2 separate regions of the Homo sapiens genome follow, and region 1 is linked to region 2. The links come from fine-mapping of genetic effects on gene expression. Tissue or cell type: whole blood. Region 2 holds a variant in brackets; the other region holds the start of a gene. All regions are shown on one strand. Distances are from middle to middle. Region 1 holds the start of CLEC2A (C-type lectin domain family 2 member A). Region 2 has its middle 7.7 kb from the start of CLEC12A.

The links.
Region 1: CLEC2A starts here. The variant in region 2 is fine-mapped to the expression of CLEC2A in whole blood (TOPMed, PIP above 0.99).

Annotation. Positions count from the first base shown.
Region 1 is chr12:9,929,340-9,934,730 of GRCh38, reverse strand. CLEC2A (C-type lectin domain family 2 member A) reads left to right here and starts at 2,361. Exons shown (of 5, transcript NM_001130711.2): 1 at 2,361-2,456. The coding sequence starts at 2,402.
Region 2 is chr12:9,960,991-9,966,381 of GRCh38, reverse strand. It overlaps a transcript of CLEC12A not described here. Among named protein-coding and RNA genes, the nearest start is that of CLEC12A, 7.7 kb to the left of the region's middle. The variant GTTT/T (reference allele first, on the strand shown) is at 3,073.

The sequences.
Region 1 (5,391 bases), 32 kb after region 2:
ATATCAACCCTAGGGAGAATCTTCAAAGTGGTCTGCTCCTTTGAAAAGCCTTAAACAGGAAAGCTTTTATTTAAAGAATGGGCTGGGCATGGTGGCTCACACCTGTAATCCCAGCACTTTGGGAGGCCGAGGCGGGTGGATAACCTGAGGTCAGGAGTTCGAGACCAGCTGGACCAACATGGAGAAGCCTCGTCTCTACTAAAAATACAAAATTAGGCAGGCATGGTGGTGCATGCCCATAATCCCAGCTACTCAGGAGGCTGAGGCAGGAGAATCACTTGAACCCAGGAGGTGGAAGTTGCGTGAGCCGAGATCACACCATTGCATTCCAGCCTGGGCCACAGGAGAGAAACTCCATCTCAAAAAAAAAAAAAAAATGACACTGTGCTTCTGGAAATAACCTAATTATTACCAGAGGAAGGAATTCATGTCTATGCCATACAAGAGCTTTCACCCTTTAGAAGTGTTTTACGGAAGGTCACACACACACACACACACACACACACTGATCAAATTGCGGAATTCTCTGAAGCATACAGAGAATGGCATTTATTCTGGCAAGAACTGTGCAAATTGTTACAAGAAACATAAGGGATGGCAAGTATGAACAATTATATTTCAACAGATGCAGGAAGCAGTTGAAATATGGCTTCTCAACATCTGGGGCTTGCATACTTGTCATCTGGAAACCAGATTGGGTCAGTTACATGTGGAAAGGAATAAGTTATTGCCAGGCCAAATTTCCATATTAAAAGAAGTCTCCATTACCAGATTCTTTTTTTACAGACACCAAATAGACCAGGGAGTTACTAAAAATGGAAGGAGGTCGTGAGAAAGCAAGTCATACTATGAGTAGGACCTCACCTTATGAATTGCCTCTTTAGCAAAATCAACTGCAGAAAGGAAAGACATTGTCTGTTAAATGAAAGGTAATAAATGGAATTCGCAGGTGGACAAAAATACCTCCTGAAATCCCGTAACCCAGCGGGGTACAGATGAGACACGCCCTCTGCAGATACAGTGTGCAACTACCAGTGTGACTCTGAGTGCCCGTTTTCTGTCTCTGCACCGAAGCACCAAAAGCAAAGATTCCAGGCTGAAGCAAATTTTTTTTTTTTTTTTTTGAGACGGAGTCTTGCTCAGTTGCCCAGGCTGGAGTGCAGTGGCACGATCTCGGCTCACTGCAAGCTCCGCCTCCCGGGTTCACACCATTCTCCTGCCTCAGCCTCTCGAGTAGCTGGGACTACAGGTACCCGCCACCAGGCCCGGCTAATTTTTTGTATTTTTAGTAGAGACGGGGTTTCATTGTGTTAGCCAGGATAGTCTCGATCTCCTGACCTCATGATCCACCCGCCTCGGCCTCCCCAAGTGCTGGGATTACAGGTGACAGACACCGCGCCCAGCCAGTTTTACAGCTTTTTATAAAGATAAACATACTTATATGATGCAGCAATTCAATTTCTGGGAATTTATCCAAGAGAAAACTTGCTCACACAAAAATGCCTGTGTACAGCAGTTTCATACATAACAGTCCCACCCTAGAAACAAAAGTCCATCAACTAGTGATCAAAGAGATAATTTCTGGTATAACATGCAATAGGAATACTACTAAGAAATAAAAGGGAATGAACTACTTACCTGCACAACAACTTGAGTGAATCTCAAAAGTATTATAAATGAAATAAGCAAGAGACAAGACACTACATATTATATGATACCATTTATATAAAATTCTATGAAAGGGGCTGGCCGTGGTGGCTCATGCCTGTAATCCCAGTACTTTGGGTGACTGAAGCCAGAAGATCACTTAAGCCCAGGAGTTCAAGACCAGTCTGGGCAATATAATGAGACCTAGTCTCTACAAAAAATAAAATTAGCAGGGCATGATGGTGCGCGACTGTAGTCCCAGCTACTTGGGTGGGTAGGGCAGGAGGATTGCTTGAGCCAAGGAGGTCAAAGTTGCAATGGGCCAAGTTTTCCCCACTGCACTCCAGCCTGGGCAACACAGTGAGACCCTGCCTCAAAAAAAAAAAATTCCATGAAAGGAAAAACTATGTTGATATAAAGCAAAGTAATGCTTGCCAGGGTCCAGGGTCAGAAAAGATAGTGATTACACAAGGAAAAAAAGAAAGATGATGGAAATGTTCCATAGCACGGTTGTTGTGGTGTTTACATGATTGACTTTACGATCCTTTTGTTATGGATGAGTTAATTTTTAAATTCCTTCCTTAAACTAACAAGTCTGCCTACTTTTATCTTTGATCTAAAATTAGTACTGATGTTTTCCATTTGGATTGGTTAAGTCTCTTTTGACTGAAGCTTGCTCAGTGCCTAAATAAGTGATGTACATGAAAAGCTTTCTAGTCCTCTCCTACTGATCTCCATCGGTTAGCGCCTTGCCATGATTAATCCAGAGCTGCGGGATGGCAGAGCTGATGGCTTCATACATCGGATAGGTAAGTTTTATAGAGTGAATGAGAAGGAAGTAAAGGAAAGATAAAACAAAATACAGGACAGCTTAAAAATATGGACTCTTTACTTACTGTGAAAGTCTACTAAAGTAAGTGAGGGATGGGGAAGCACTTCCGGAGAATTGTGGAAGCCTGTTAGAGCATGTAGAGTTTTATGTCTGCAAGAGAGGGTATAAGCTTGTGTGTAAGAAGGTTTTGGGGCAGAATTTTATGGTACGTGTATTATATCTCAATAAGAATATTTTTAAAATGTACTTTCACAGGGAAAAAATTGCTTAACACTTTTATACAGAATAAAAAGCAAATGCTTCACTCTGGAAGGAGGCTTGATGATTGTGACTTCATAAGACTGAAAAGAACTTTTCAAAAATTTTAAGATTCAGCTAAGGCCAACAATGAAGTTTGTTTTCAGTGGATTGAAACATAAACAAACCAATAAATAAAAACAAGGTACACATACAAACACCCTCCATTCACAATAGTTCTGAGGGTTTATGTTAAAGAAAACGAATGAATTGTATGCCAAATGACTGGAATAGGAAGCCTGCCAAAACTTTAAGATAAAGACAGTGAAGAGATAAAAAGTAAAATCTTGAAATGAGTTAAGGACTCCAGCTGAAACCACTATCAGAGTTTACTGATATGAATTCCCAGGGCAATTGGGATAATTCTTTTAATAATAAGTAAGCCTGATACTCTTAAAGGTTGAAGAGACCTCAGTAGCTACCTAGTAAAACTTTTCATCTACCATACGATTTCTAGCTACAGCATTTCTAGCAGCCTATACTAGAATGTTTTCAGTGATAATATCTCTCTGTCTTAGAAGACTTTCCATTTTAATTTAAGGATGTTCTATTTAGAAGTTTCTTTAGGGTAAGGTTAAATTTACTTCGTTGTATATTCTAACTATTGGTCATAGTTACGAACTCTTGATCTATGAAAACTTCATAAGAAAATTTTTAAAAATTAGTCTACATTTTACACAATTGGACATTAGTATTACAAAAAGAAATAAGATTCCATCCCTTTAGCCAAATAAATTAGTCAGGCTTGTCTGGGTAACAGATTTAAGAGTTTAGAGAGTAAAAAGTGGAAGAAAATTTATCTCATTGCATAACGAGAAGACAAAATATGAAGTACTGTGAAGCATGTACTGGAAGATTATGAGAAAGCCGGGCTGCAGGAATCATTAGAACATCTAGTCTGAGAATTTAATTAAAGCATAATAAAAATGCTCCAAAAGAAAAGATATTAATGAAATGAAGAAGCACCAAGAACACAATAAAAACCAAGTGAAAATAATAATTATAGAAATATAGTGTTTGAAATAAAGAACACTTTGAGGAGTTAATTAATAGAATGGACGCTGATTAAGAATGAATAAGACCTAGGAGATGCTATTAAAAACATGACAGAAAAGAAAACAGTTAGAAAATATAAAATAAAAGCTGAGAGATATGAAAAATAGAAGTAGAAATGCCACCTTCTAGATAACAAGAATCTGAAACAGAGAGAGAGAAAAAAAGAATAGCGGATAGGAAATATTTGAAGAAATAATATTCCAACTTCTAAAACTAATAAAAGCCAAATACCTCAAACTGAAACTTCAAAAGTGTACAAACAAAATAGATAAGAAAAAAACATGCATCTGGCACAATAGAGTGAAAGAAAAATATACAAAATTAAAAAATGAGATAATAGGAGACGTTAGTGAAAAAGAGAAGAAATGAGAGGGATAACAAATCAAATGGTGGCTATTAGAAAAGACGAGAGAACTAGATGTCTAAAAGTTTGCAGAAGACGATACAATAAAGAAAATATCAAAAAAGTACAAATAATCACAAAAACCACAAATATTAAAATTTAATAAAACATTATGGAAATAATTCATCAATTATTATGGGGCAAACTCTGTTCCCTTAAAATTTTATATATTGAGGCTCTAACCCCCTCTACCTCAGAATGTGATCTGGTTTGGAGATAGTGTCTTTACCACGTTAAAATTAGGTCGGTAGGTTGGGACCTAATTTAATATTACTGGTGTTCTCATAAAAAAGGAAAATTTAGAGACGGATCCATATACAGGGAGAATGCCATCTTCAAGCCAAGGAGAATGGCCTGGAACAGATTCTTTCCTTACAGGCCTCACAAGGAACCCATCCGACCAACATCTTAATTTCAGACTTCTTGTCTCCAGAACTGTACGACAATACATTCCTGTTAATTTTAGCCGCCCAGTTTGTGACAACTTGTTACGGCAGGCCTAGCAAACTAAAACACTAATGCGCTTATAAATATTAAAAAAAGAAGGTAGAGGTCTAAAAAATATAAAATGCCAAAATGTAATGAGAAGAAATAAATAATTATAGAATTATAGAAATTAAAAATAAATACATTGAAAAGGCAACTAAAATAGAGTAATCTACTGATCTTTCAAGAAATAGCTAATTTTTGTATTGGACATCTTGCTTCAAAAAACAGCAAAATGAGAAATTTACCCCGATTTAATAGACTTTTTGATTTCCAAACAAAGTCAGAACAAGACAAAAAGAAACAGACTCATCTTCTTATGAAATTAGAAGTAGAAATTCCAAGAAAATATTTATTTACTATATACAACAAAGCAGTTAAAAATTCATATACAAGTGGATTTATGTTAGGAATGCTTAGATATCAGAATATCAGTGCAAAAAATATTAAAATTTTTTGAAAGAAAGTCCACACAATTATTCAGTAAGTGCATTTGATAACAACAAGGAAACATGATAACATTCAATGTCTATCTGAGATAAGTCCCTGTTAAGAAACTAGGAATAGAAAAATTCTTTTTTAAATTGCTAATGTTGTATGTTAAATTTATACAGCATTTTTACAGTGCTTAATAATGAAAATTTAAACATTCCATTTAAGATTAAAAACA
Region 2 (5,391 bases):
CCAAGGCTCTCTGACTGACTCCTTCCCAGATCTTCTCGGCTTAACAACTGAAGACTGTCACTGCCCAATCACCTCAGAAGCCTACAGGACCATCACAGACACTCTAGGTAACTCTCACAGTGGAGGGTAAGCCCGTCCCCTTCTTAATCAATACGGAGGCTACCCACTCCACATTACCTTCTTTTCAAAGGCCTGTTTCCCTTGCCTTCATAACTGTTGTAAGTACTGATGGCCAGGCTTCTAAACCTCTTAAAACTCCCCAACTCTTGTGCCAACTTAGACAATACTCTTTTAAGCACTCCTTTTTAGTTATCCCCACCTGCCTAGTTCCCTTATTAGGCTGAGACACTTTAACTAAATTATCTGCTTCCCTAACTATTCCTAGGCTACAGCCACACCTCATTGCCACCTTTTCCCCCAGGTCAAAGCCTCCTTCACATCCTCCCCTTGTATCTCCCCACCTTAACCCACAAGTATAGGACACCTCTACTGCCTCCTTAGCGACTGATCCTGCACCCCTTACCATCCCATTAAAACCTAATCACCTTACCCCGCTCAATGCCAATATCCTATCCCACAGCACGCTTTAAAAGGATTACAGCCTATTATCACTCTCCTGCTACAGCATGGCCTTTTAAAGCCTATAAACTCCCCTTACAATTCCCCCATTTTACCTGTCCTAAAACCAGACAAGGCTTACAGGTTAGTTCAGGATCTGTGCCTTATCAACCAAATTGTTTTGCCTAACCACCCCATGGTGCCAAATCCATATACTCTCCTATCCTCAATATCTCCCTCCACAACCCATTATTCTGTTCTGGGTCTCAAACATGCTTTCTTTACTATTCCTTTGCACCCGTCATCCCAGCCTCTCTTCACTTTCACTTGGACTGACCCTGACACCCATCAGACTCAGCAAATTACCTAGGCTGTATTGCCGCAAGGCTTCACAGACAGCCCCCATTACTTCAGTCAAGCCCAAATTTCTTCCTCATCTCTTACCTATCTCAGCATAATTCTCATAAAAACACATGTGCTCTCCCTGCTGATCATGTCCGGCTAATTTCCCAAACCCCAATCCCTTCTACAAAACAACAACTCCTTTCCTTCCTAGGCATGGTTAGGGCAGTCAGAATTCTTACACAAGAGCTGGGACCGCACCCTGTAGCCTTTCTGTCCAAACAACTTGACCTTACCATTTTAGCCTAGCCCTCATGTCTGCATGCAGTGGCTGCCGCTGCTTTAATACTTTTAGAGGCCCAAAAAATCACAAACTATGCCCAACTCATTCTCTACGGTTCTCATAATTTCCAAAATCTATTTTCTTTCTCCCACCTGACGCATACACTTTCTGCTCCCTGGCTCCTTCAGCTACACTCCCTTTTTGTTAAGTCTCTGACAATTACCATTGTTCCTGGCCCAGACTTCAATCCAGCCTCCCACAGTATTCTGGATACCACACCTGACCCCTATGACTGTATCTCTCTGATTCACCTGACATTCACCCCTTTTCCTCATATTTCCTTCTTTCGTGTTCCTCACCCTGAACACACTTAGTTTATTCATAGTAGTTCCACCAGGCCTAATCGCCACACACCAGCAAAGGCAGGCTATGCTATAGTACAAGTCACCAGCCCACCTCTTAGAACCTCTCATTTCCTTTCCATCGTGGAAATCTATCCTCAAGGAAATAACTTCTGTTCCATCTACTATTCTACTCCTCCTCATAGATTATTCAGGCCCCCTCCTTTCCCTACACATCAAGCTCGAGGATTTGCCCCCACCCAGGACTGGCAACTCTTAACTCCCTCTCAGAGGGGATAGATAATCTTTGCTGGCAGGGGACCCTCCAATACTTTCACCCTGATGAAGTTCTATTCTTTACTTTTATACTCAATCTTATTCTCATTCCCATTCTTATGCCACCCTCTACCTCTCCCCAGCTATCTCCACCACACTATAAACATTACTCATTCTCTCCTAGCTGTTTCTAATCCCTCCTTAGCGAACAAACTCTAGCTTTGCATTTCCCTTTCTTCCAATGCCTACACAGCTGTCCCCACCTTACATGCAGACTAGGCAACATCTCCTGTCTCCTACACCTCCAAACTTCCTTTAACAGCCCTCACCTTTACCCTCCTGATGAACTCATTTACTTTCTAGACAGGTCCAGCTAGACCTCCCCAGACATTTCACGTCAGCAAGCTGCCGCCCTCCTCCACACTTACTTAAAAAACCTTTCTCCTTGTATCAACTCTACTCCCCCCGTATTTACCTCTCACAACACAAACTACTATTCCTGTGGCTGCTCCTTTATGTATCTCTCAGCAAAGACCCACTGGAATTCCCCTGGGTAACCTTTCACTTTGATGTTCCTTTACTCTTCATCTCCAAAGCCCTCTTGTTGTTTACTTATACCCAGCCCCATAAATAACAGTGAAAGGTAGCTCATAGACACTCAACATTTTCTCATACACCATGAAAATCGAACCTCCCCCTCTACGCAGTTACCCCACCAGTCCCCATTACAACCTCTGATGGCTGCTGCCCTAGCTGGATCCCCAGGAGTCTGGGTACAAGACACCCCTTTCAGCACTCCTTCTCATCTTTTTACTTTGCTTCTCCAGTTTTGCCTCGCACAAGGTCTCTTCTTCCTCTGTGGATCCTCTACCTCCATGTGTCTACCTGCTAATTGGACAGGTACATGCACACTAGTTTTCCTTACTCCTAAAATTCAATTTGCAAATAGGACCGAAGAGCTCCCTGTTCCCCTCATGACACCGACACGACAAAAAAGAGTTATTCCACTAATTCCCTTGCTTATCAGTTTAAGACTTTCTGCCTCCACTATTGCTCTCGGTACTGGAATAGGAGGCATTTCAACCTCTGTCACGACCTTCCATAGCCTCTCTAGTGTCTTCTCTGCTAGCATCACAGACATATCACAAACTTTATCAGTCCTCCAGGCCCAAGTTGACTCTTTAGCTGCAGTTGTCCTCCAAAACCGCTGAGGCCTTGACTTAGTCACTGCTGAAAAAGGAGGACTCTGTATATTCTTAAATGAAGAGTGTT[GTTT/T]CTACCTAAATCAATCTGGCCTGGTGTATGACAACATAAAAAACTCAAGGATAGAGCCCAAAAACTTGCCAACCAAGTAAGTAATTATGCTGAACCCCCTTGGACACTCTCTAATTAGATGTCCTAGGTCCTCCCAATTCTTAGTCCTTTAATACCTGTTTTTCTCCTTCTCTTATTCTGTTTAGTTTTTCAATTCATACAAAACCGTATCCAGGCCATCACGAATAATTCTAAATGACAAATGTTTCTTCTAGCAACTCCACAATATCACCCCTTAGCATGAAATCTTCCTTCAGCTTAATCTCTCCCACTCTAGGTTCCCACATCGCCCCTAATCCCGCTGGAAGCAGCCCTGAGAAATATCGCCCGTTATCTCTCCATACCAAGCCCCCAAAATTTTTGCCGTCCCAACACTTTACCACTATTTCATTTTTATTTTCTTATTAATATAAGGAGACAGGAATGTCAGGCCTCTGAGCCCAAGCTAAACCATCCTATCCCCTGTGACCTGCACATACACATCCAGATGGCCGGTTCCTGCCTTAACAGATGACATTCCACTACAAAAGAAGTGAAAATGGTCTGTTCCTGCCTTAACTGATGACATTATAAAATTCCTTCTCCTGGCTCATCCTGGCTCAAAAGCTCCCCCACTGAGCACCTTGTGGCCCCCACTCCTGTCCGCCAGAGAACAAGCCCCCTTTGACTGTAATTTCCCACTACCTACCCAAATCTTATAAAACAGCTCCACCCCTATCTCCCTTCGCTGACTCTCTTTTCGGACTCAGCCCACCTGCACCCAGGTGAAATAAACAGCCTTGTTGCTCACACAAAGCCTGTTTGGTGGTCTCTTCACACGGATGTGAGTGAAAGTTATAACGGAAAAAAGGGAAAGAAATGAAGACAGGTGAAGAAAAGTGCACAGGGATAAAAATTTGGAGACACACACCTTCAGAGTCACATAATTTAAAAGTTGAGAGACCACAGTGACAGTGATATACTCAGGTACCAAAAAGAAACACACACTTGGGATCCAAAAAAAAAAAAAAAAAAGAAAAAACCGGTTATACATTAAAAGGAAAATTTAAGAAGATAAAATAACAGGACAATTTACAAGATAGAGATAAGACCAAAGGAAACCATGAGGGATAGTGAAATACCCCAGGGCTAGCTACTGCCGGAAGCCATTACTACATTAGGCCTGAGAGAACATTGCTGGTAGCAATTAACTGAAGCAGCAGAAACTATAGCTGATGAAGGCTGCCTCCCTGGAGGTACACTCAGCGAGAACAACTCCATATCCATTTCCTAGTGCTGTAGGGAAGGATTCTCCCACCTTTAAATCTTTTGCCTATTCTTCCTATTAGCACAAACATACCTAGAGCTTCAGGACAATAGTGTCCAGGGATATTATACATGAGAGTCAGTCACCATCCTAGGGCACTGCAAAGGGATTAGAATGGTGAAGAGTAGATTTATTGAAATCATTTTCTGAACCATATGTAGGCCAGTTTTTATCATTTGGCTTGTCAATTGGTGTTTTGATATTTAATTCTTTTTTTTTAGGTTGTCTCATAATTTTTTATTAAATAACAGGCCTTATGTATTAAAAACAGAAATTTTAAATGATCTTCCTACCAAAAAGTTTTGTTTCTTTTTTTCTGGCAGTCACACAGAATATAAGCGGTAAACCTTGATTAATTGGAGCCCCTCAAATTTTGCCTTCTCAGTTGTTTTATACATTTTATCTAAATTTTATAATTATCTTTTTGTAGGTTTCTTTCATCTGATACAAGTTGCAATGCTATGACTAGGATTGGCTTTATTCTGGCTTTGTTCTCCAACAAACTAAAATTGGGAGGTTATATAGTGAGGAAGGAATGTAGCTATGTGCAGGCAGAAATGTAGCTGTGTGGGGAGTGTAAACCAAAAATGAAATTCTAAGGCCCCTCAACCATCTGAATGGACTCCCTCTTCAACCACAGCTCTTTGAAAATTTAACCTGAGAGATGGGTTCAGGCCATGACAGGAAGTGCGTGTCGAACACGCTTCATTATATCTCTCAGGCATTAATACTTAAGTCTCTCTCAAGTCTGCTGTCTGGAGGCTTCATTTGCATGATAAAACCTTGGTCTCTACAACCTCTTACCACAACCCAGACATTTCTTTTCTATTGATTCCAGACCTTTAGATAAACTCAACCAATTGCCAATCAGTAAATGTTTATAGTTGATTGAAGCCTCGTGTCTCCCTAAAATGTACAAAACCAATGTGTACCTGAACCACCTTGGGTGCATGTTCGCAGGGCCTCCTGAG